Linked DNA regions of Homo sapiens. The protein of the gene in region 1 interacts with the protein of each later gene in a pairwise test. Each region holds a gene or a part of one and is shown on either strand. Other genes may lie near its edges. The genes, in order: KCTD15 and PEX26.

What was found.
Region 2: the proteins of KCTD15 (region 1) and PEX26 interact in binary tests that used the Homo sapiens proteins (3 or more experiments, as listed by UniProt).

The regions. Positions count from the first base shown.
Region 1 is NC_000019.10:33,798,147-33,810,584, forward strand, and holds part of KCTD15 (BTB/POZ domain-containing protein KCTD15), read left to right. Parts: exon of another isoform or gene 1-248; intron 249-521; 5' UTR 522-524; coding exon of another isoform or gene 525-620; intron 621-1,447; coding exon of another isoform or gene 1,448-1,476; exon of another isoform or gene 1,477-1,572; intron 1,573-2,281; 5' UTR 2,282-2,308; coding exon 2,309-2,374; intron 2,375-3,020; coding exon 3,021-3,196; intron 3,197-8,712; exon of another isoform or gene 8,713-8,716; coding exon 8,717-8,861; intron 8,862-12,438. UniProt on the Homo sapiens protein: During embryonic development, it is involved in neural crest formation. Inhibits AP2 transcriptional activity by interaction with its activation domain.
Region 2 is NC_000022.11:18,084,732-18,097,169, reverse strand, and holds part of PEX26 (peroxisome assembly protein 26), read right to left. Parts: intron 12,059-12,438; coding exon 11,912-12,058; intron 9,199-11,911; coding exon 9,095-9,198; 3' UTR 1-9,094. UniProt on the Homo sapiens protein: Peroxisomal docking factor that anchors PEX1 and PEX6 to peroxisome membranes. PEX26 is therefore required for the formation of the PEX1-PEX6 AAA ATPase complex, a complex that mediates the extraction of the PEX5 receptor from peroxisomal membrane.

The DNA.
Region 1 (12,438 bases):
CCCCTGGGACAATTGTGCAGGCCCCCAGGACTTTCGCCCCGGGCCAGCGCCCTGAGTGCGGAGCCGAGGGGAGCTCGAGAGGCGCCTTCTGTTTACCTTTTATGGTTAAAATAACAGCTTAGCAAAGAAGCGACTTCAGAAGAAGCGATTTAGTGAAATCGTCTCAAGCTGCCGCAGCTCAGCCAGTTTAATCACCCCCAGAGAGCCGAACAACTGCGAGCGCAATGGGACACAAAATCATTTTGTGTGTAAATGAGCGTGGCATTCTGCTCACTTCTCTCTGCTCGGGCGGGCGGGGCTCGGCGGCGGGCGGGCAGGGACCCGGGTCTCCCGCCGCAGCTGGAGAAGCGGGTCACTACCGGGCCAGTTTGGAAACCTGTGGGCCCTCCCGACCGCTATCGCTGAGGCCCCTGCAACAGGCGGGCCAGGGCGCACTGGGGCTGGGTGCTGGGTTTGATGCTGGTGCTGGTGGAATGAACTTGTATCTCTCACTGCACCCACTTTTGTGCTTCTGACTTAAGCAGTGGTCTCGGAAAGAGGGTCGTGGTCCCGCACGGATGCGCTTGTTGGGAGAAACCTTGGAGATTCACGGCAAGGCGTAAAGCCTGGGGCTTCCAACGGTAAGTTTCTGGCTTGCCATGAACATCAGGTTGTTCTTGGGAGGGAAAAGGGGCTAAGAACAGAGTGGAGCGGCTTCTGTGATGGAGGCTTGGTGTTCACGTCACTTTGGAATAGTGTCCTGGTATTGGGGAAAACATCTTGCAGTCCGCTTTGATAGAATTTCAGCCAGAATTCCTTCCTGTTCAGTTTATCCTCAGCGCGTCTTCCCTTCTGACTCCTCCCCCAGCAGAGCCTCCTAGGGCAGGATAATCCATTCCTGAGGTCTGTTTTGGTTCTCAGAACTCCTTGAGCTAAGTGACCTGGTTTTGTTTTTTTAAGCTTGTAGAACTCAGGAATGCCAAAAGCAGTGGATTCTGAGTCCACAGGCCCCAGTGAGGGTATATATTAAACATCACTGTCTGCCCATTGCAACCTCCCACCCCAGTTTTATGTCAGGAAACTTGCCCGGGCACTCAGGGAGAGCAACCTTGCTTACATTTGCAGGATTTGATTCTGGTTGGATTAAAATTGGATATTGAATTTCAAGGCACAAATTTTGATCCCAGAGTTTTAATGGGAAAAAGCAATCCCATGGGTCCCAAGAATTTCAAGTGGTTTCTCTCTTAAAGGTTAAACCTTCGAGAGACGTCCAGGGTAGGTTTGTGGAAGCCAGTGTCTGTGGATGTGTGAAGGGGGGTGACTATTCACGTGCAAATCTCCTCTTTCCTCCCTTTTGAGACAGCTGTAAATCAGTGAACGGGGCTGCAGAATTCTGCCCCTCCTGCATAGGGCCTGCAAAGCGCCCCTGGGTGTGGCTTCCAGGGACTGAGGGACAATCTTATTTCAGGTGACTACGGCACAGAGGAGAGTTACTGAGTGCCTCTGGGGAGGAGCAGTAGAAAGGGTCCATTGGCTGATCTGCTTGCTCTGTGCTTCCTCCTGGCCACCTGGCCATCTCCTGATGCCTCGGGGGTATGTGATCCTGAGGGGTCTGGAATGCATTAGGCATAGACAACACCACTCTGGGAGTCTGGGGAGAAACTGTGAGGTACAGACTAGGCAAACAAAGACAGGTTTTCTCTGCTATTGGGAGCCACAGAGAAGAGGCGGCTTCCCAAGTGACTTGCCCTCATCCATGTGCCTGGACTTCTGCTGAACGGCTTCCCTGTGTCTGGCCAGATGCAAGCTGTATCTTATCACCATGGGGATGGTATTAAGAGAGGTCCTAGGTTCCCTGGCCCATGGAGGGTGAGGGGTGCTTTCTGAGCCTTGGTCCACAAGGCTGTTGCAAGAGGAGACACGCTTGGTAACATGGCTTGAAAGGAAAATACCAGGAAAATCTGGTTTGTTCTGAAATATTTTGGGGCAATAATGGTGAGCATATGTTTCAGTGCTGTCATTAGCCGAATTAGCAGACATGGAGCTGCCCAGAAAACACATGTGTGAGTGTGACTGTGTGTGTGTGCATGTATGTGTGTGTCATCTGCTACAGCCTGGAGGCCTGCTTTGGGGTGTGGAGACAGATAGAGAGATAGTGGCGGTGGAGTCAATCAGGGAGGGCTGCATGGACCTCGCAGGGTCTCAGAGAGCATGCAGAAAGGACAATTCTAAGTGTCTTTGACCCCATGGTACATGACTAGGAGGAATAAGCCTTCTCTGGTTTTGTCGATGCCTCCCGCAGATACTCTGGGCAGGGATGGAAGCCTAGATGCCTCACCGCAAGGAGCGGCCGAGCGGGTCCTCGCTTCACACACACGGCAGCACCGGCACCGCGGTGAGCCTGCAGGGTGGGCTGGGTCCCTGCCGGGAGTTCCCTCTTTCCCTTCTTCCCCAGTGCCTGTTTACTGGCTGTCCTTCCTTGGGACCATGACACTCCAGGTGGCTGTTGACTGGCTGTAGGATTATGTATTTTTGAAACAAAAATGCTCTTAATTTGATGTGAAATTTACTACATGTATAAAACTCAACGCCTTAGGTGCTGAGGAAGTCACTAATTTAGAGGTGTCTCGTTACTGAGACAAACTTGCAAAAAACCCCTGAATCCCAATTCACAAATTGGTGATTCGTTTGTCAGGGGATATTTCACATCTAACACATAAGCCCACGACCTTTAATTAGAATTTTGCAGTTTGTTTTATGCCCCTGGAGGCTGACACCTTGAAAAATTTTTTTTCTTGATTTCTTATTGCTAATAAGCATCTTTCTTTTTCCCTCTGGTACTTTGAAGAAAATGATGCAAATACACTTAATTACAGTGGTGGCCATAATTTGTCAGCTGAATATATGATCAGGCACGGGCAGAAGTGATCTGATTAGATCTGTGATCACACTCTCAATAAAGGGAGTGCATGGCTGTGTTGTGGAGAAACTCTTGTGTTCCGCTTTGAAACTCTTGTGTTCCGCTTTGTTTCCATCTCTAGGAGGGAGGAAACATGTCCCGGCTGTCTCTCACCCGGTCGCCTGTGTCTCCCCTGGCTGCCCAGGGCATCCCCCTGCCAGCCCAGCTCACCAAGTCCAATGCACCTGTGCACATCGATGTGGGCGGCCACATGTACACCAGCAGCCTGGCCACGCTCACCAAGTACCCTGACTCCAGGTAAGAGTAAGCCCCTTGAAACATCAGGCATGTGTGGGTCAGGGCAGCATCTGTAATCTGCTGCCTAGGGGGTGGGGTCTCTCCCCACTGTCACTCCACCCACCAGGGTCTCCAGGGTGCACAAGCTGACACAGCCTGAGGGAGCTAGGGTTGGGGAGTCCAAGTCTGCCTGTTGAAAGCTGCTATGCACAGAGGCTTGTGACCCTGACTTGGCGGCATTGGTAGTGCAAGGTGGAGCTCCTGACCCACCTGCAGGGGACTAGGGCTTATTCAGAGCCAGCCCAGCCTGAGCCTGCCGGCAGCGGGCAGGGGAGTCTCACGTACCTTCAAGGTTCCTCTGGAGGGAGACTTAGGCCCGGCCCCTGCAGGGGGTCATTTGTGAGTGATACTGAGTAGGTAAGTCTTGGGGGCATGGGGGTGGGTATTTAATCCTATTTTCTATTCCACCCCTGGGAAATTCACAAGGGGAGGGAAGAGGAGCTGTGGTGAGCTGCAGTGTGCCATCTTTGTCATTTTCCGTGGCCACTGCTGGGCCCTAGAGGCTAGCAGCAGGCTTCCCTTGGAGCTGGTGCTGCAGTGACTAGCTAGGAATGAATCACATACCTCATCAGTGGATAAAGGGTCTCTGGCCAGGACCCTGGTTGGGGGCTCACAGGCACCCTCCATGCTGCTGAACTTATAGGCTGCCCAGGCCCTTGGGCCTGCGAGAGGTTTGGGGTGCTGGGTGCTGCCAGCTCTCCTGCTCTTCCTTGCAGGGTGTTTCTCTCCTGGGTGAGGGACCTGCTTTCCCCGTTGGCACGGCAGCAGGGCTGACCCGAGTAGGGTGGGTCTTGAGCAGCTTGCTCAGCCGAGGATGTTTGCTCCTGGCACAGAGAGGCGGTCATCGCTCCCCTGGGGCTGCTGAAGGCTGAGCGTGGGAGGGCCAAGGCTGTGGGCATCACCCCTGTGTTATGCATTTGAAATAACAGGAGGAGTTAATTAATCCCCCAGATACTGAGGGATCATCTCTGGGGAGCATACACGGCAGGCTGCATTGTCACCGGTGTGGTTCCTCAGAGCAGGGAGGATGGTAGTGCGCAGAGGTGGCTTTCCAAGCCTGTTGGGGCTGCAGGGGAGCCTGTGCAGGTGCAGGCATGGTCCCTTGAGGAGGAAAAACTGGAAATGGGTGCAGTGTCTAGTTCCAAATTTGGAGAGTCTAGGGTACAGATGGTGACTGGTGTTCCAGTACCCCAGGTGGACAGAGACTCAGCCTGGGGCCCTGTGGCCTTGGGGCTTGTGGGGTGGGGACAAGAGCCACGGGGCCAGGTCAGCAGTGTTGGCCTGTGTGCTCACTCACAGAGCCCTGTCTAGGATGGGAGATAGATTCTGCTTATTTAATTTCCATTTTGCCTTCTGCGGCATTTCTGAGTTGTTTGAGATAGATCATCCCTTAATCGGTTGACGACGTTTGTGAGTGAAATTCATAAAACCTTTGCCCACAACCCTCTCTGAAGAGTTTCCTGAAATCAGAGAGTTGCCTGTCTGGAGTAATCACAGCCCAGGCCCTGGGGGAGGCGGGTGGGAGAGGCTTCTCATTCTGGGCTCTTGGCTGCTGCCTGAGAGCAGGAGGGCAGGGGGCCATCTCCCCCCACCCAGCCCCACTGTGCTGCTCACCCATTGCTTTGTTCTGCTGTGGGATGTGCTCTCATGGGGAGCTAGGGCCCCTGTGGCCCTGTGATCTGGCACTTGGGACCCTCCTGGTGTGCCCAAGGGGTGGCAGTCTATGTTTATTCTTCCCCAGGGCTGGGGCTCAAGGTGAATCTGTTGTTCTGCCTGGATGGCCTCTGGCTGCTGTGGGGGTGCTCTGTAGGCCTGAAGCTTTGGACTAGAGGCCAGGGATGGCTGACCTGCAGGACAATCAGGGGACAGGAGGCCAGGGGGCCTGAGAAGTGGGTCAGGCAGCTGTGCTGGCAAGAGCCCCTCAGATCTCTCTTGTCCTTCCTGTAGTGGATTATTATAATATAAGCAGTTTTCTACCAATTCTGGAAAAAATCAATCTCACCTAGTGTCACTGATCTAGGAGACACCTGGAGATGGAGGACTAAGAGTGCTGTGGTCCTCAGGGGGTTTCTGGATGGTGAAGATGACCTGCCCTAGGCAGCATTGTAAAAGCTGGGACCTCTACCCTCGGCTCCCCTGAGAACTCTGCCTGAGCCTCTGGGTCTCGGCGGTTGGGGTGGCCTGGGTGCTGGAGAGTCTCGTGCTGGGTGACTCCTCTGGTCTGCCTAGGAGCAGTCACTGGTCCTCACCCGAGACAGCCAAGCACAGCCGGGGCTGGGAGTGGATTCCCTGGGCCGGCCCCCTTGCTGGTGTCCTGCCTGCTTGACCCCCGTTAGCTGCCGCCATCACAGCCACACTCTGACATCCATCCTGACTATGGGAAGCATCAAATGAAGATGGCCAGGAGCTTCAGAACTCTTAAAACCTGGTGCCTGAAACAGCCAGGAAATTGGAGCCAGAGCTTAAAAAAAAAAAGGAAATAAACGAGAAGACGAAGGCCATCCTGATGCTCCCCCTTGTGCACACAGGGCAGGTGGTTGGAGGCATCTTTTCTGCCCCTGAGGGTCCCACCTGCTGCAGCGTGAACTGGCCACCTCATTCCATGGAGGACTTCGGAAGCCGGCCCCTCAAACCCTGCATCCTCTCTCAGAGGGTGGCCTGGGCCATTTTCCACAGGGAACGTGGAGCCCCTGACAGAGCTGGGAACTCATACCTGCAGGGCTGAGAATGGCTGAGGGCTCCTCCATGGTGATTATCCTCACCTTTCCTCAACCTGCTCACGTCCTTGGCAGCCTCAGACGCTGAGGGCATGAAAGGCCTCTGTCCTGGGAGAGGCGGTACAGCTGCCGCTTGATCCAGGAGCCTATACTGAACCATGGAAAGATCTAGAATCAGCCTGTCCTGAAATAAGGCAGATGGAAAACCTTCTAAACTTGGACCGATGAGACAACCTAGAACCCATCCAGCCCTGGAATGTGGGTGCATCAGGAGTCTTCTAGACCAACAGGACCAGCTAGAGCCTCAGCCAGACCTGACGTCAGAAGGGTTGGGAACTCAGCCAGGCCTAGAATGCTGCCTGCTTACATGGACTTTGGAGCTCCACTGGGAAGGGTGGGGAGAGTTCCCAGGAGGCTGAGGGTTTGGATCTGCTGACTCACCTTGGATGTAGCTCTTACTTCCCACCGGTGCCACACATGGACCTCAGCCACCTGCCAACCACTGCCCATGGTATCTGGCAGCCTGGGACAGACCCATCTGTCTCCAGGAATGCTGGGTGGCCCTCACTCTGACATCTGGATGCCCACGCTCTACTAGGCCAGGTCCTAGGGCCTTTGTAACTGGAGCCAGCCGTGGAACCCACAGCCTTTCCAGCAGGGGCTGTGACCTGCAGTGCCATTGTCACCAGGCCTAGGGGGTTGACAGGGCTCATCGGCCTTTGGAGCTCTGAGATGAGTTGTATCTGGGTGGCTGCAGCTCTGGGTCCACAGACTCGGGCTCACAGCAGACTCTGACCTCCCCATGCCCATCCACGAGACAGCCTTGCCCTTTTCTTTCTTTCTTTTAAGCGACAGCGTTTGTCTTTCTTGGCCAGGCTGGAGTACGTGGTGTGATCTCGGCTCATTGCAACCTCAAACGCATGGACTCAAGTGATCCTCCCACCTCAGCCTCCCAAGTGGACTACAAGTGCATGCCACCATACCCAGCTAATTTTTAAATTTTTTGTAGAGATGGGGTCTTGCTGCGTTGCCTAGGCTGGTCTCGAACCCCTGGCCTCAAGCAGTCCTCCACCTTAGCTTCCCAAAGTGCTGGGATTACAGGTGTGAGCCACGGTGCCCAGCTAAACCGTGCCCTTTATACTACCCTGCTAGGAGAGAAACCTGCACCGTGTTCCCAGAGACTCCATACCCGGGCAGACCATCATGGCTGATGCATTGAGTGTGCTGGGCCATCAGAGCATAGGATGGTGTGGACGGGAGGCCCTGAGGGCAGACTTGGGGGCTCTGACTCCCTCAGCTCCTGCCCAGCTAGTGTGTCCTGGGTGCAAGTGGCAGTGGGGCAGGGCCCTGGAGACGGCTGACTTGGAGTGGACAGAGGAGTGGGCTGCTGTTAGAACAGGGGGCATCCCTGCAGGGGTCCCTGCTGGTGCAGGCAGAGAGTGAGGGGCTTAGGCTCCAGATTGTGTGCAGGCCGGGCTGGGAAGCCTAGGTCCCAAGTTGGAGCTACTGTTCTCCCAGCTGTGCAGAGAAGCTGCCACCTTGGCAGGGTCCAGCTGGGCAGGAGTGTGGCCCTGCCTGCTGAAGGATGTGGTGGTGCTGCCCTTGGGGAAATGATGCCAACTTCCCTCCTGTTCCCAAACCAAGCCCTTGGCTACTCCCACCCCTCTTTAGGGTTCCTAGTTATCCCTAGCTCGACCTGGGGTCTGCCAGGGCAGTTGCCAAACCAGAGCTGGCCACCCTGGGCACTGGGGAGGTGGTATCAGCCCTGGCTCTGAGGCCTGGCTCCTTCTCCCCGGAGTGGACAGGGACAGGCATCAGGGGCTCCCCAAGACCCTTCTCCTGGTCTTGCATTTGTTAGAACCATTGCCCTTCAGAGGACAGGGTACCGGCACCTGCCTTCTCTCCAGTCCCCATCCGCCACCACTAGGTGTGGTGTGCATACGCTCTGGCATGTGTGCACATATGTATGCACTGTGGTGCATGTGTGTGCATGGTTTCTGTGTGCGTGTGTGTATGCCTGTGTTGTGGCATGTGTGCAAGGGCCCTGTTGCATGTGTGTGCTGTGGCACACTTGCCATCCCTCCTGTCTGCCTCTGTTTCTCCCTGTGGGCTCCCTGAGTGAGCGGCAGTAGGGGATTTGTGCCGTCATGTCTCTGGGTGCCTGGTGTTGACAGGTGTGTGTCCTTTCCTGGATGTGTCTGGATCTGCATGATATGTGTGTGTTGGGAAGGAAGGGACCATGTGACCCTGTGCCTGTTGCACAGGCCTGTGTGTCTCACACTCGTTTACATGGGTTGGGTGGGGAGGATGTATGTCCTGGCTCGTTTACTGGGTGTGTGGCTGTTGGCCGGGGTGTTGGATGGTTCATGTGCATTTTCTGGGTGGGTCTATCTGGCAAGGGTGTGTGCACCAGGCCTGTGACCAGCTGGTTTGTGTGTAGGGGGTAAGGTGCCTGTGTCTTGCTATACCTTTCCAGGCCTGTAACATAACGTGTGTTGGCAGGCTGGTGTGTACAGCTGGGTGTGTCCCTCTCTGGCTGTGACTTGCGGGTGTAGGCAGGATGTGTGGTGTGTCCTGTTAACTGTAGCCTGGCTGCCCCAGGTGTGTGCAGATGTTGTCAGGCCTGGAACAGTTCCAGAGTCACCCATGTCAGGTCCCTCGCCCCTCCAGCCGTGTGGGCCCTCAGGAGTGGGGGCGGGGTGTGGGAAGACAGGCAGACTTGTCCCCATCCCTTCAGACATCCCACCTCGCCTGTCTCTCCCAGGATAAGCCGCCTCTTCAATGGCACTGAACCCATCGTCCTGGACAGTTTGAAGCAACATTATTTCATTGACCGGGATGGGGAGATTTTCCGCTACGTCCTGAGCTTCCTGCGGACGTCCAAGCTGCTGCTTCCGGATGACTTTAAGGTAAGTCCATGGCTGGTGGCCCCCCTGCACTGCCTGTGTGATGGCATTACACAGGGGACGCTGTGACTTAATAAGTGGACCCCTGGTTGTCATGGTAACCATAAAAAGTTAAACGATGAAGCCGAGGGCTAAATCAGTTTTTCTAAACTAATTTTGTTTTCTCACATTTTTAGCTTATTTATCAGGGTATATAACAACAATCAAGCTGCAGAACGTATCCCAGCTGAACATTTGTCGTGTTTAAGGATGGGCGCGTGCCAGCGTTATAGTAGTTAGAGGTTCATAAATCTGTTCCATCGGCTGGGTGCAGTGGTTCATGCCTGTAATCCCAGCACTTTGGGAGGCCAAGGTGGGTGGATCACTTGAGGTCAGGAGTTCAAGACCAACTTGGCCAACTTGATGAAACCCCATCTCTACTGAAAATGCAAAAATTAGGCCTGGAGCGGTGGCTCACGCCTGTAATCCCAGCACTTTGGGAGGCCGAGGCGGGTGGATCACCAGGTCAGGAGTTTGAGACCAGCCTGGCCAAGATGGTGAAACACCGTCTCTGCTAAAAATAGAAAAATTAGCCAGGCGTGGTGGCAGGCCTGTAATCCCAGCTACTCGGGAGGCTGAGACAGGAGAACCACTTGAACCCAGGAGGCAGAGGTTACAGTGGGCCGAGATTGCGCCACTGCACTCTAGCCTGGGCGACAGAGCAAGACTCCGTCTCAAAAAAGAGAAAGAAAAGGACGGCTGTAATTAGACTTCAAAAAATAAAGTATAAAAAGAAAAATGCAAAAATTAGCCGGGCATGGTGACAGGTGCCTGTAATACCAGCCACTTGGGAAGCTGAGGCAGGAGAATCTCTTGAACCCAGGAGGTGGAGGCGGAGGTTGCAGTGAGCCGAGATCACGTCACTGCACTCCAGCCTGGATGACGGAGCAAGACTCTGTCTCAAAAAAAAAAAAAAATCTGTTCTGTGTTGGGCAATTTGCAGGGAGAAAAGCCCTGATGACCAAACAGATACCCTTTAAACAAAAGGTTAACCCCCAGGTCTCCGGGTGAGCCCGTCAGGGCAGGTGACCTGGTTCCCTGGGTCATGCCTCAGTGCTGAGCCCCTCCCACATGTCAGGGACTCTGGGAGGAAGGAAACTCAGGCCTGGGGTACACTGGCATGTATTAATACTAGCAAATGTCTGTCCTTCCTTCCTTCATTCCTTCCTCTATCCAGAGGACCAGTAGCCCTGGGGCCTTGTCTTTCATCCAGCTCAGTTACTGAGTGCCAGCCTCTGAATTCAGGCTGAAAACAGTGAAACACACACACTAGGACCTGCCCCACAACACTTAACAGTCTAGCGGGCAGACAGATACTGAACTTGAAGTCCATGTGACCTGGGCTGGGCGGGTTTGAAAGAAATGATGTTCATCTGGGTGGTGAAGGCAGAACGGGGCCAAACAGGTGTGAGGGCCTTGGTGCAGGGGATGGGGGTGGCAGATGGCTTGATGCATTCCAGAACTGGAAAGAAGGTGTCAAGCCTGGAGCTTTATGGACTGGGAGGGGAAGGTCAGGAAAGGAGGCTGCTGTTTGATGTCAGGACCTTGGTGGGTGGCCCAGTGCCTGGCATTTAACTCTGAATGCAGTGGAAGGGGTGTGTGCAGGGGAAGGGCAGTCAGATCTGCAAATTGGGAAGATCTCTCTGGCTGTTGGGTGGGGAAGAAGGCAGAGAGGGGTGGGGGTGGGTGCAGTGAGGCAATTATGGATGAGGCCCCTTCCCCAGGCCAAGGGAGGCTGGGTGGAGGCTTTGGATGGACCAGGATGGAGATAGAGAAGATGGAGCAAGGTGGCACATCAGACTTCTGTTTAGTACAGGCACAGTGGCTCACTTGGTCATCCCAGCACTTTGGGAGGCCGAATGGGGAGGATCCTTTGAGGCCTGGAGTTCAAGACCAGCCTGGACAACATAGCAAGATGCTGTCTATACAAATTTGTTTTTTAATTAAAAAAGGCCGGGTGCGGTGGCTCACACCTGTAATTCTAGCGCTTTGGGAGGCCGATTTAGGTGGATCACCTGAGGTCAGGAGTTCGAGACCAGCCTGACCAATATGGTGAAACCCCATCTCTCTTAAAAATACAAAAATGAGCCGGGCGTGGTGGTGTGCACCTGTAGTCCCAGCTACTCGGGAGACTGAGACAGGAGAATTGCTTGAACCCAGGAGGTGGATGTTGCAGTGAGCTGAGGTCACACCACTGCACTCCAGCCTGGGCAACAGAGCAAGGTTTCATAAGTAAATAAATAAACTTTACTTTTAAAGTTTTTTAAGAGTAATTTATTTACTTTTCATAAGTAAATAAATAAACAAGCAAGCAAGCTGCAAAAGCACGTGGCTGTGGTAGTGTAAAGGGCCTCTTGCAGGTGCCCCGGGACTTGTGGCTTGAATTCTGAGTTGGTAAGTTGAGGCCCGGGGTGGACCAGGCTGTGGGAGTGGGGTTTCTGCCCCTGCATGGGAGAGCTGGTGGGGCATCAGATGGAGAAATCCTGGGCCATGACAAAAGATGGGGTTGTCTGTCATGCAGTTGTCATTTAAAATCTCAGGAGAATGGCCAGGAGAGGTGGCTCACACCTGTAATCCCAGTGCTTTGGGAGGCCAAGCAGGAGGATCATTTGATCCCAGGAATTCCAGACCAGCCTGGACCTTGTGTCTACAAATAATTATTATTGTTATTATTATTATTATCCTGGCATGATGGCTCATGCCTGTAGTCTCAGCTGCTCGGGAGGCTGAGTCAGGAGGATCCCTTGAGCCTGGGAGTTCAAGGCTGCAGTGAGCTATGATCACATCACTGCACTCCAGTCTGGGCTACAGAATGAGACCCTGTCTAAAGAAAATAAAATAAAAATCTCAGGAGCAAGTGAGAGTGGAGAGAGCAGAGGCCCAGGATAGAGCCCTGAGGAGCCCTTGCATGGGGCAGGAGAGGCAGGATGGGCCACTGACCCATGACAGGCCCAGAGGTCAGGGTTAGAATCTAGGCCTCCCTCCAGGCGGCCAGCAGGTGGAAGGGACTTAGGGCCTGTAGGTCAGGGGGCTGGGCTTCCTTGCCTCTTCCTCAGGCATGAGTCATGGGGACCTATGGGACCTTGGCCATTCCCAGTGGGGTGGGTGTGTGTGAGCGTGTATAGTGTGCATATGTGGCCCAGGGCATGGGGCCAGTATCAGCGCCTGAGGGACAGTCTGTGCGAGGCTGCTTAGCCCAGAAGGGGGCTGCGTGGCAGGGGGCGGGCTTCCCCTCCCTGGACACTTTATCACACTCTGCCTGTTTGGGCAGGGGCTGGACCAGGCACTTGGCACATCTTGCATCCTTTGATCCTCACTTTCATTCTCTGAGCTGGTTGTTTATGTCCATTTTATACATAAGGGAACTGAGGCCGGGCGCAGTGGCTCACGCCTTGGGAGGCCGAGGCAGGTGGATCACATGAGGGCAGGAGTTCAAGACCAGCCTGGCCAACATGGGAAAACCCCATCTCTACTAAAAACATAAAAGTTAGCCGGGTGTGGTGGCAGGCACCTGTAGTCCCAGCTACTCGGGAGGCTGAGG
Region 2 (12,438 bases), on another chromosome or scaffold:
TCTCATCTCAAACTGTAATCCCCACGTCGGAGGAGGGACCTGGTGGGAGGTGACTGGATCACAGGAACAGTTTCTCCCCTGTTGTTCTTGTGATAGTGAGTCAGTTCTCACGAGTTCTGATGGTTTTAAAGTGTGGCATCCCCCCTCATTCTCTCTGCTGCTGCCATGTAAGATGTGCCTTGCTTCCCCTTTGCCTTCCACTATGACTGCTTGTTTCCTGAGGCCTCACAGCCATGCAGAACTGTGAGTCAGTTAAACCTCTTTTCTTCAACAATTACCCAGTCTCTGATACTTCTCTAAAGCAGTGTGAAAATGGACTAATACAGACTGCTTTCACACTAGACTTTTTCAAGCCTTTTCAAAAACCCTATGAATGTATTGCATATTTAGAAAATTAAACATGGTCTGAAATGAATATATAAAAAGGCTTAGCACTTTAAGAAATCAGAGCCGGCCGGGCGTGGTGGCTCACGCCTGTAATCCCAGCACTTTGGGAGGCCGAGGTGGGCAGATCACAAGGTCAGGAGATCGAGACCATCCTGGCTAACACGGTGAAACCCCATCTCTACTAAAAATACAAAAAATTAGCCGGGTGTGGTGGCGGGCGCCTGTAGTCCCAGCTATTCGGGAGGCTGAGGCAGAAGAATGGCATGAACCTGGGAGGCAGAGCTTGCAGTGAGCTGAGATCGTGCCACTGCACTCCAGCCTGGGCGACAGAGCGAGACTCCATCTCAAAAAAAAAAAAAAAATTCAGAGCCATTTGCAAAGCCTAGTTCCTAGGCTAAGAACAGGAATCAGAAGTGCTGCCTTTTCTGTGGTCTGATGTTCACAAGATGCTGGGTTCTACCACTCCAACTCTCCCCTCCTTACCTCACTTAATTAAGAGCAACAGTAATAATAACTAGCACCTGCTCACTACATGCTATGCACCTTTTCAGTGTTTTACATGGATTAGCACCAGTTAATCCTCACAACAAACCTATGAAGTAACTGAGGCACAGGAAAGATTATTTGAAGGTCAAAGCAGGTGAGTCAAGATACAAACTCAGGCCGGGTGTGGTGGCTCATGCCTGTATTCCCAACACTTTGGGAGGTGAGGCATGCAGATCACTTGAGGTCAAGAGTTCAAGACCAGCCTGGCCAACATGGTAAAACCCCGTCTCTACTAAAAATTCAAAAATTAGCCAGGCGTGGTAGTGTGTGCCTGTAGTTCCAGCTACTCGGAAGGCTGAGGCAAGAGAATCGCTTGAACCTAGGAAGTGGATGTTGCAGTGTGTCGAGATCATGCCACTGCCCTCCAGCTTGGACGACAGAGTGAGACTCTGTCTCAAAAAAAAAAGATACAAACTTGGGCATTATGGGTCTGGGACCCACACTCTTAACCACAATCCCATGATGTCTCTCATTTACGCAGCAAATTACTCCATTGGGGTTAGGCCTTGTTTCTCAAAAAAAAAAAAAAAAAGGCTTTTGCAAAATATGTTTCCTGGGAGGATTAATAGAGCACATCTTTTAGCCATTGTCTTTAGCACCTCTGAAAACAAGCACTTGTCACCATGGAGACCATGAAATCCAGGAACAGGACAGAACACAAACAAGTACTAAAAGGGGAGTGGGAAGCATTCCCAGAATGTTCCAGAGCAGGGGGTGCCCGCCGGACAGAGATGTCAGAGCCCACAGAGGGACTGGGAATGGGTAGGATGTCTCTGGTGGGGCGACCAAAAAATTTTACCAGCTCCCCAGCTTTCCAGAGAAAGCAGCCCATTCTTTGAGACCCAGCTAAGTCCACTGGTAACCAAGAGCATGGCTTATCTGTGTGAGTCATCCAATGAAACTACCAGCTTGTATTTATACCTACCCAGGAGGACACCCGCCAGGCTTTGTCATTGCTGGTACATCTGAGAAGAACACCTCCTGCTCTTTCTCTGGAGGGAGCTGGGCGACGATACTACTAAACAGATGCCAAAGCACAGAGCCCTCCCCTGCCCCACCTCCACCCTTCAGCCCTGGTGCGGGTCTTATTGCTCACCAACTCTTGCTGCTTCTATTTCTTCCTTCCCTAATTCCTAAGGCCAAAATCCAAGTTCATTCAACAAATCTTTATTACTTGGCCTCTTACATGGATGGCCTCATTCCAGGTGCTATGGGGGAGATAAGAACAGAAATCCTGGTACCTGTATGCCTAGATTCAAATCCCAGCTCTACCATTTAAAAGCGGTGGGGCACTGGGCACATTAGCCCCTCTGAGTCTGTTTTGCTGTCTCTAAAATGATAATATCTACCTCGCTGGCTTGAACCCAAGAGGAGGGTGCAGTGAGCCGAGATCGCACCACTGCACTCCAGCCTAGGTGACAAGAGCAAGATTCCATCTCAAAAAAAAAAAGAAGAAAAGAAAAGAAAAGAAAAAAAAAGCCAAAGGAAAATAAGAAACTAGCTATGGAGGCAGAAAAGGGGCAGTCAGTGGGGTCAGAGACAAGGCAAGAAGCCAAAGAAGGGATGGCCCTCTACCGCATTTGGAAAATAAGCCTGTAACATAAAAGTATGCATGCATTTTTCTGAGGGCAAGAACCTGTAGGTTACATTCTGAGGACCATACAAATCGGTTTTCCACCTAAGAAACTTCTCCATGTAAATTATGTTGAGGTCGTCATTAAAGAAGCTTTTTTCTCTCCAGGTGCCGTGGCTCACGCCTGTAATCCCAGCACTGTGGGAGGCGGATCACGAGGTCAGGAGATCGAGACCATCCTGGCTAACACGGTGAAACCCAGTCTCTACTAAAAATACCAAAAAATTAGCCAGGCGTGGTGGCGGGCGCCTATAGTCCCAGCCACTCGGGAGGCTGAGGCAGGAGAATGGTGTGAACCCAGGAGGCGGAGCTTGCAGTGAGCTGAGATCACGCCACTGCATTCCAGCCTGGGTGACAGAGCGAGACTCCATCTCAAAAAAAAAAGGCTTTTTTCTGAAATGACACTCTTCTACAAAAGTGCTTTCATTTCTTCACCAAGTCTCTGCTATTATCTGACACCTGTCCGTCCCACCTTGGATAGTACAAAAGTGACAAGAGGATGCTAAAAGTTTTAAAGGGGCTGTTGGAAAATACGAGCTGGGAAACATGTAGAGCTAAATATGAGCTCAGGTCAATATTAAAATTGGAAGTAGGTCACAGAATCCCAACCCCACATATTTGGATCCAGCCCTTGGTGAGTGGGCCTTGGACTGTACTTCACAATCCCATCTTCACCTGCAGTTGTCCGGCCAACATGGCCCCTTCCCGCCTGCCCTTTCCTAACCACCTCCACTCTCTCTAGTGAAGACGCTGAGCTCGCAGCCATGCTGGTTGCACACTGCCATTTTCTACAGGTTCTCAAGTGCATGGGCTGCCAAGAGGGTTGGGTGTTTACATTTATTTTTAATAGAAATGGGGTCGTACCCGGGGCATCTCTTTTCTTCATACTGCAATGTTGCTAGATACACAATCAGACACCAGAGGGTTGGGCATTCTTGCAATACCTTAACAGTGCTGAAACCTGCAGCATGGTACTAAGGAAGTTAAAGTTAGAATGTAACCACTTTATTTAAAAGGTTTATTTTTGTTTTTTTTTTTTTTAAGACGGAGTCTTGCTCTGTCCCCCAGGCTGGAGTGCAGTGGCGCCATCTAGGCTCACTGCAAGCTCCGCCTCCTGGGTTCACGCCATTCTTCTGCCTCAGCCTCCCGAGTAGCTGGGGCTACAGGCACCCGCCACCACGCCCGGCTAATTTTTTGTATTTTTTTAGTAGAGATGGGATTTCACCGTGTTAGCCAGGATGGTCTCGATCTCCTGACCTCGTGATCCACCTGCCTCGGCTTCCCAAGGTGCTGGGATTACAGGCGTGAGCCACCGCGCCCGGCCAGGTTTTTTTCTTTAATTTAAATGAAATGGGGTTGAAGTGAACATGATCTTGTTGACCATGTTCGTGAATTATAGATGCAACATGCATTGGTAGAATCGTGTGATGGTCTTTTGTGATACTTAATTTTTACATATCCCAGTCTCTGTATGTATCTGCACAAAGAAAAAACAAACTCCTGCTTTGCTCTTATTGAAGGGTTCCCAGGACTGCGTGTCTGCTCCTGAGCTCTGTTTTAAGTATGTGTATCCTTTGCTTGTATTTTGTATTAAAAAAGTAAGAAAAAGAACCCTTTATTGTTGAGCATGTTGGCATTGTCCCGTTTATTTTTTTCTCTTTTTGGGACATATGAAGCAAGTTATTCTTTTTCTGTATCTTTTTTTCTTTTGTAAACTTTTTGTTTTTTTCTTGTTTAAAATTGGCTTTATAAAAGGGCTTTTATAACCCACCCCCCCCCCAAAAAAAAGAAATGGGGTCCCACTAGGTTGCCCAGGCTAGCTTTGAACTCCTAGGCTCAAGCAATCCTCCCACTCTGGCCTCCCAAAGTGCTGGGATTATAGGTGTGAGCCACCATGCCAAGTTAAAAAAAAAAAAAAAGTCTGTGAAGCAGGAGTTGCAGGAAAAAAAAGAATTAGTTAATTAATTAGGGGGAAAAAAGCTGAAAGAAAATCAACCGTATTAATAGTAATTATTTCTGAGTGGTGGGATCACGAGTCCTGTATTTCCTTCTATGCAATTAATATTTTCTAAAATATACATGCATTGCTTTAAGACAAGAAAAATACTTGCTGTTTTATCAAGAGGCCTAGAGGTGGCAAACAATGTCTGGATCCGTACACCACCGCTGGAGGAATGCAGAGGCGGGCGGGGGCGCGACAGGCTGCTAGGCACCGTGCCCACTGTCTGTCCTGTAGCTTCCTACCAGCCCGAAACACTGAGGTTTCCAGAGGCAGCGAGGCAAAAGGGCCAGACATTTTTCTGGTTAACACTCCATGTATTCAGTTTCCAAAGGTGCTAGGCCAGGGCGGTGAGGCCGACCTTGGCCAGGCCGTGGGTGGGTTGCTTGACTAGGCCAGAGAGTAAATCAGTAGAATTCCCACAGGCCCCATCTGTGGATGTGAGGCCAAAGTCCATCGGCCCCACGGCTTTTCCGTGCTGGGAGGGAGGAAAGCAGAGGACGGCACAGGGAGGCTGGGAGGGAGGAAGGAAAGCAGACGACGGCACAGGGAGGTGCCCTACTCGCGGTTCATGTCATCACTTTCGCTTTCTGACAGTTCCTTGGGCTGCTTTAAGTGGATAGCAGAGGCCACCTTCTAGATGTAGAAAGAAACTGAACGTCCAGAGTGTGAACTGGCCTGCTTGTATCTCCCCTCGGCGGCAGTGGTGGTTGCCAGCCTGGCTTGCGTTTGCCCAAAAGTAATAGTAAAGAGCTCTGACCACTGCTGCTCACCCTAAACTTGGGGCTGCTGTACTTGTAGGCTTTGGAAAGCATGGAGGGGTTTCCACATATTAAAAAGGAAAAGGGCACCAGGTCTGTGCTCTGTGACCCCATCACGCAACGGAATGACACACAGCTATGAAGAATGAGGCTGCTCCACATATGCTGGGACTGAGAAAGGTTTTTGTGTTTTGTTTCGTTTCTGAGACCAAGTTTCACTCTTTGTTGCCCAGGTGGGAGTGCAATGGCGCGATCTCAGCTCACTGCAACCCTTGCCTCCCGGGTTCAAGTGATTCTCCTGCCTCAGCCTCCTGAGTAGCTGGGATTACAGGTACCCACCACCATGCCCGGCTCATTTTTTTTTTGTATTTTTAGTAGAGATGGGGTTTCACCATGTTGGCCATGCTGATCTCGAACTCCTGACTTCAGGTGATTCACCCACCTTGGCCTCCCAAAGTGCTGGGATTACAGGCATGCGCCACCGCGCCCAGCCGAGAATTGTTTTTTTTCTTTTTAAACGTGGCACAGTGTGTGTAGTGTATGTGACTACTATCATTTGTGTAAGAGAAAGAAAAGTTTACTATCAGAGACTGTATCTGGAGGGATAAACAGACTGGCAAGGGTTGCCTCTGGGCAAGAAACTGGGGAATAGAGAGCGGGAGTAGAAAGACTGTATTAGCTGGGTGTGGCAGCACACACTGTAGGCCCAGCTACTCCAGAGGCTGAGGGGAAGACTTGCTCAAGCCCAGGAGTTCAGGTCCAGCCTGGGCAACACAGCAAGACTAAAAAAAAACAACTTTCTTTTCCAAGAATACCCTTTTTGTAACTTTTGAATTCCGTATTTTTTAATGGTCTATGGTCTACAAACACTCATGTGCAAACACATACACGCAGAATAGGGATCACCTGCACGAAGCTATGAACTATTTCCTCATCCCTTCTAGCCCCTTCCTAGAGGCGAACCCTCCGCCCCCACCCCCAGGCACTATCTGTCCTGCTTGCACCCACCTCCACCCAGGGCTGGCCAACAATAGCCTGTTTCCTCTCCATTCCACCCCTCTCCCCCACCCTCCCATCCCACCACAGAAGAGGATTACTGGTTCCTGCTTTCCTTAGCGCCCCTAAATTTAAAGGTATCTGTTCTATGTTGCATGCTTCAGAACCCTGTAGAAACAACCAGCAAATCCACTGTTGATACGCAATTACCCCTCTTGGATGCATCTGCAACAAGCACTCCCCAGCTTCGAAGGGGCAGCAAAGAAGTTCACAATTACAAGACCATGGGGTCACGACCACAGAAGCGATATGAAACAGGTCCCGGGACACAGGGAGGGGCAGAAAGAATTCTTTGAGTAAGCCTGGAAGGTGGAGGGGCTCACCAGGCCAAGAGCAGGTGCTAGGCCTTCAGTAGGAACAGTGCGAGCCAAGGCACAGAGGCCAAGGGGAGCGAGCTGTAGCTGTGATGGTGGGCAGCTGGAAGGCCGCACATATAATCAACAGGGGACCCACATCAAAGGGGAGATCTTAGCCAAAACCAGCACATAGGGGCCTTCAATTCCATGAAGAATTTAGATGTTATCCAGTGAGCCATGGGAAGCCATTGAAGCGTTTTATCTAGGGTAGTTAAGTGGGCCCAGATTTTCATTTTAAGAAATCATTCTATAGAAGGAATCTCAAACCTCACCTGACTGCTTTTCTCCCCCCAGGGTTCTAAGCTTTACTTAAAAGCCCATATAAAAAAGTATAGATTTGCTTCCTACAGACTTGAACCATGCCCTAAGGATTTAATTCTAAGGGGCCTGTGAAGTTTACCTACTTTACTCATTTTTCTAAAGAAAAGTTGGCCGGGCGCGATGGCTCACACCTGTAATCCCAGCACTTTGGGAGGCCTAGGTGGGTGGATCACAAGTTCAGGAGATCGAGACCATCCCGGCTAACACAGTGAAACCCAGACTCTACTAAAAATACAAAAATATTAGCCAGGCGAGGTGGTGGGCACCTGTAGTCCCAGCTACTCGGGAGGCTGAGGCAGGAGAATGGCATGAACCCGGGAGGCGGAGCTTGCAGTGAGCTGAGATCACGCCACTGCACTCCAGCCTGGGTGACAGAGACTCCATCTCAAAAACAAACAAACAAACAAACAAACAAAACAAAAGAAAACTTGTTGCCTTGCAACCCCCGAAAATGTACCAAGGAAAAGCTAGCAAGCACCTTCTCTATTTTGGGCATCAACACCAAGGACACAGTGCAGGGCAGCCTGCTTGGCCTCTGGGTAGAGAAAGGCCAGCCCCTGCAGAAAGCCCTTCTTCATCCTGACAGCACAGCAGTGCTCTACGCTTCCTTGCACAGAAACTCATAAGATGCTTGTGGCTGGTGAGAAAACAACACTGAAACATTTCAGCTCCTCAAATGCTAAGGCCTCGGTGCCACCTCCCTAAGGTTTTATTGTTCACTGCCTTCAAAACCCATGTCTCCCGTCTGCCCCGCCCCCCACATCCCTTCCAGCTCACCTGATTACTCAGTTCCATTTTCAGCTCAGCAGCCTCTGAGGCTGGCCTACTTTTCAAGGCCACACGAGCAGAAAAATTTGGGCATTACACAAACAACAGAACATAACTAGGACAATGGGACACAGAAAGGGAAGAACCTGAAATGGTGTGTACCAAGGAGGCAAGGATACAGGCAGAACCTGGTGAAACAGCCAAGGGACAAGTTTGCAGGGCGGGAGGGAAGGGCTGGCGGGGAAAGAGTGGGCAGAGGCACTGAGCGTAACAGAGCAAGACTTGGCCAGGACAACCTGGAAAATTGAGCTGAAGACCAAGAGGCACCAGGCAAGATCACTTTACCCAGCGATAAGAGCTGTAAGGCTCACTTGGTTTTCAGTAGTCAACCCGGTGGTTCTGAAAACCACACCCCAGCCTGAACAGTGAGAAGGCTCCTGCAGCTTCAAGCGCATGGCAAGACCATGGGAACAGCCTATTGATACAGAATTAGATCAGCTCTGGGGAGCACAGTGCAGGCAAGAAGAGGCCCTCTCAGATCTACTCTAGCTAATTAAGGTACTGTCCTGTGGGGCATGTTTTTTTGTTTGTTTTGAGAGAGTGCGGTAGCACAATCTCAGCTCACTGCAACTTTTGCCTCCCTGGCTCAAGTGATTCTCCTGCCTCAGCCTCCCAAGTAGCTAGGACTATAGGCGTGCACCACATCTAGCTAATTTTTGTATTTTTAGTAGAGATGGGGTTTCACCATGTTGGCCAGGCAGGTTTTGAACTCCTGGCCACAAGTGATCCACCCACCTCACCCTTCCAAAGTGCTGGGATTACAGGCGTGAGTCACCATGCCCAGCAAAGAAGTATGTTTCTCAAGAAGTGAAAGGCCAAGGGTCACTTCACCAGGCTTTTTCTGAACTTCCAGCTCCATTAACATCCTGACCTGAAGAACCAACCCCTTGCCTTCACCAAGAAGATGGAATGTTTCATGGACACAGTCCCTGTCCCCAAACCCCTCCTTTTCAAGGGGCCTCTGGTCATCCGGGGCACTGTTCTGGAGGTGCTGTGCCTGCTGGTCCTGCTTTGTTTCCACATCATCTACCGCGACCAGCCGAAGTAGGGTGCAAAGGAGAGGGCACCCAGGCAGCAAGACACAGTGCACTCCGCGAGATTAGGCTGGTCCCATTTCCCCAGGGGCGCCTGTGGATGTGTCGCTCTGTCGCTCTGCTTCTGTGGCCACGGACGTGAGGAGCAGAGAGGCTGTGGTGCGCAGGGACCCTCAGTCACGGATGCGGAGCTGGTAGAGGCGAGAAAATGCAGCCTTCCGGATCCAGCGGAAGAGCTGGGCCAGCTTGTAGAGGAAGTGCAGGGAGGAAGGGGAAGCTGCAGGGCAGAGGGAGACTACAGTGAACGTCCCACCCCTCTCACCTGTCACTCTGCCATCTCCCACCCTGGGAGACTCCACTACCAATTACACATAGTTGGTTTTGTTTTGTTTTTTTTAGAGACAGGGTCTCGCTCTGTCACCTAGGCTAGAGTACAGTGCAGTCTGTGTTCAGCTCACTGCAGCCTCAATCTCTGGGGCTCATGCGATCCTCAGCCTGCAGGTGCAGGTTCTCCTCCCCCACCATCATCACTCCAATGAGTCGGGCCTGCTGCTGAGGGTCAGGGCCACTGGGCCAGGCCCTTCTGAAGCAGCCTTGGAAAGAGCAGGCTCAAATGTCCTCATGCCATCCCCACTAGGAGACCAGGGTTTACGAGACTAAAGGGCTTACGGGAACCATAAAGAATCATAAAGAGTTTCTAAATCTGTATCAGTCAGGAGGTGGCCAGGGATGAACGCTGATGATACTGAGCATTCCGAGCGCTAACTCGTGACTTCTTTGTAAAGCAAACAGAGTCGTCCACAGGGGATCCCTGCTCAGCATTCAGCAGACGGGTTAGAAGGACAACTCTGAGCTATGTGACGGAAACCTCGCTGGCCAGGCATGATGGCTTGTGCCTATAATCCCAGCACTGTGGGAGGCTGAGGTGAGAGGATCACTTAAGGCCAGAAGTTGGAGACCAGCCTGGCAAACATGGCGAAACCCCGTCTCTACTAAAAATACAAAATGTAGCCTGGCATGGTGGTGTGTGCCTGTAATCCCAGCTACTTGGGATACTGAGGCAGGAGAATCGCTTGAACCCAGGAGGCGGAGGTTGCAGTAAGCCGAGATCACGCCACTGCAACCTGGGCAACAGAGCAAGACTCTGTCTCAAAAATAAAAATAAAAAATTAGCCGGGCATGGAGGCACATGCCTGTAGTCCCAGTTACTTGGGAGGCTGAGGAGAGAAGATCGCTTGAGCCTAGGAGGCAGAGGTTGCAGTGAGCCAAGATCACGCCGGTGCACTCCAGCCTGGGCAACAGAGAAAGACCCAGTATCAAAAACTAAATAAATAAAATAAAATAAAAATAAAAATAAATAAATAAATATTTTAAAAAAGCTCACTGAATAAGAGAAAGAGAAATGGGGAAACAGGGAGAATCTAAAGACTAAGTTAACAAATGGCACTTCTCAAAATAGACAAACCATTTGAAGGGACCAGTATAAGGGTTTCTGATTTCCTCTTAAATTTTGAAACTTATTTAATCATATTCTAAGTCTAAATTCATGAGAAGAGTAGAGATTAGAACATAACTCACACTGAGTAACACAAAAAAATCTAAAAGAGCGAGTGCCAAGTTTGGCTTCATGCACCTGAGGGGTCAATCCTCAGGAAATAACTGGGGTTGTTCCCAAATATCACTTAGGGAGCTCATTCCTTCTTCACAGCGAGGCAGAAAACAGAATAATCACCCAAATGTTCAATAATAGGGGTTGTTAAATTACTTAGGGGCATTCCTGTGAACTGGAATAGTTAGCGATTTAAGGCCATGCTTGAAAGCATATGTGTGACATGTAACTGCCTACAATCTCTATATCCATAGAAAAAGACTGAAAGCACAGCAGAGTAGCAGATTTCTATGCCCTTCTTTATACTTTTCTCTATTTTCCACATTTTTTTTTCTTTTTTGAGACAGAGTTTCGCTCTTGTAGCCCAGGCCAGAGGGCAACAGTGCAATCTTGGCTCACTGCAACCTCCGCCTCCTGGGTTCAAGCAATGCTCCCTGCCTCACCCTCCCCAGTTGCTGGGATTACAGGCACGCACCACCACACCTGGCTAATTTTTGTATTTTTAGTAGAGACGGGGTTTCACCATATTGGCCAGGCTGTTCTCGAACTCCTGACCTCAGGTGATCCACCCTCCTTGGCCTCCCATAGTGCTGGGATTACAGGTGTGAGCCACCATGTCCGGCCTATTTTCCACATTTTCTAAAATGTATGAGTTTTTCATTTACAACTTGCTTTGAATTAACACTTCATGAGACATTAATACTTGAATTAACACTTTTGTAGATATTCTGATGAGCGGAAGTTTTTTTGTTTTTTGTTTTTTGTTTTGAGACAGAGTCTCGCTCTATTGCCCAGGCTGGAGTGCAGCAGTGCGATCTTGGCTCACTGCAACCTCCGCCTCCCGGGTTCAAGCTATTCTCCTGCCTCAACCTCCCAAGTAGCTGGGACTACAGGCATGTGCCACTACACCTGGCTAATTTTTTTTGTATCTTTAGTAGAGATGGGGCTTTACCATGTTGGCCAGGCTGGTCTCGATTTCCTGACCTTGTGATCTGCCTGCCTTGGCCTCCCAAAGTGCTGGGATTACAGGCGTGAGCCACCGTGCCTGGCCAAGAGGAAGTTTTTTTAAATTCTGAGGTTCTAGTCAGAGTTCAGCCCTAGAAAAAGTGGAGGACTATGACTCAGTCCATGTTCAGGAGTCAGCAGGGCCAAGTGGACTTTCTCCTGGCTGCTCTCATAGACTCCAGGACTGGCCTCTCCTTATGGGTGGGGCTGGCTCATGCCCAGTCTAGCAATTCCTCCTTGTGGAACAGACTCAGGGGAAATGTCATAGGAGAGACTCCCCTCCCCAGTAGGACTCTGACAAACACCCACTCCCACAGGCCCAGCCCTGGCAACAACCCCTTCCCAGGAAGGACAGGGGAGAGTCTCCACCTCTTACCTGGATCAAATCTCACCACCAGGAGACAGAGGATCAAGGCAGCCAGGAGACTCTTTTTGAAGGGCAGAGAAAAGAAGTGGCTCACCGCAGAGTCCCAAAGCTGGCGAACCAACATCGGTAGTGACAGGAACTTGTGGGAGACAGAGCCTGGCCAGGGAGACAGAGCACAGCTTCAGGGATGTCATGGGAATCAGCTTCCCTGACCCCGACCTCTGTGCTTGCTTCTAAGACCTGAGCAGGCCAGGCGCAGTGGCTCATGCCTGTAATCCCAGCACTTTGGGAGGCTGAGGCAGGTGGATCACAAGGTCAGGAGATCGAGACCATCCTGGCTAACATGGTGAAACCCCGTCTCTACTAAAAATACAAAAATTAGCCAGGCGTGGTGGTGTGCGCCTGTAGTCCCAGCTACTTGGGAGCCTGAGGCACGAGAATCACTTGAATCTGGGAGGTGGAGGCTGCAGTGAGCCAAGATCGTGCCATTGCACTCCAGCTTGGGCAACAAGAGCAAAACTCCGTCTCAAAAAAAA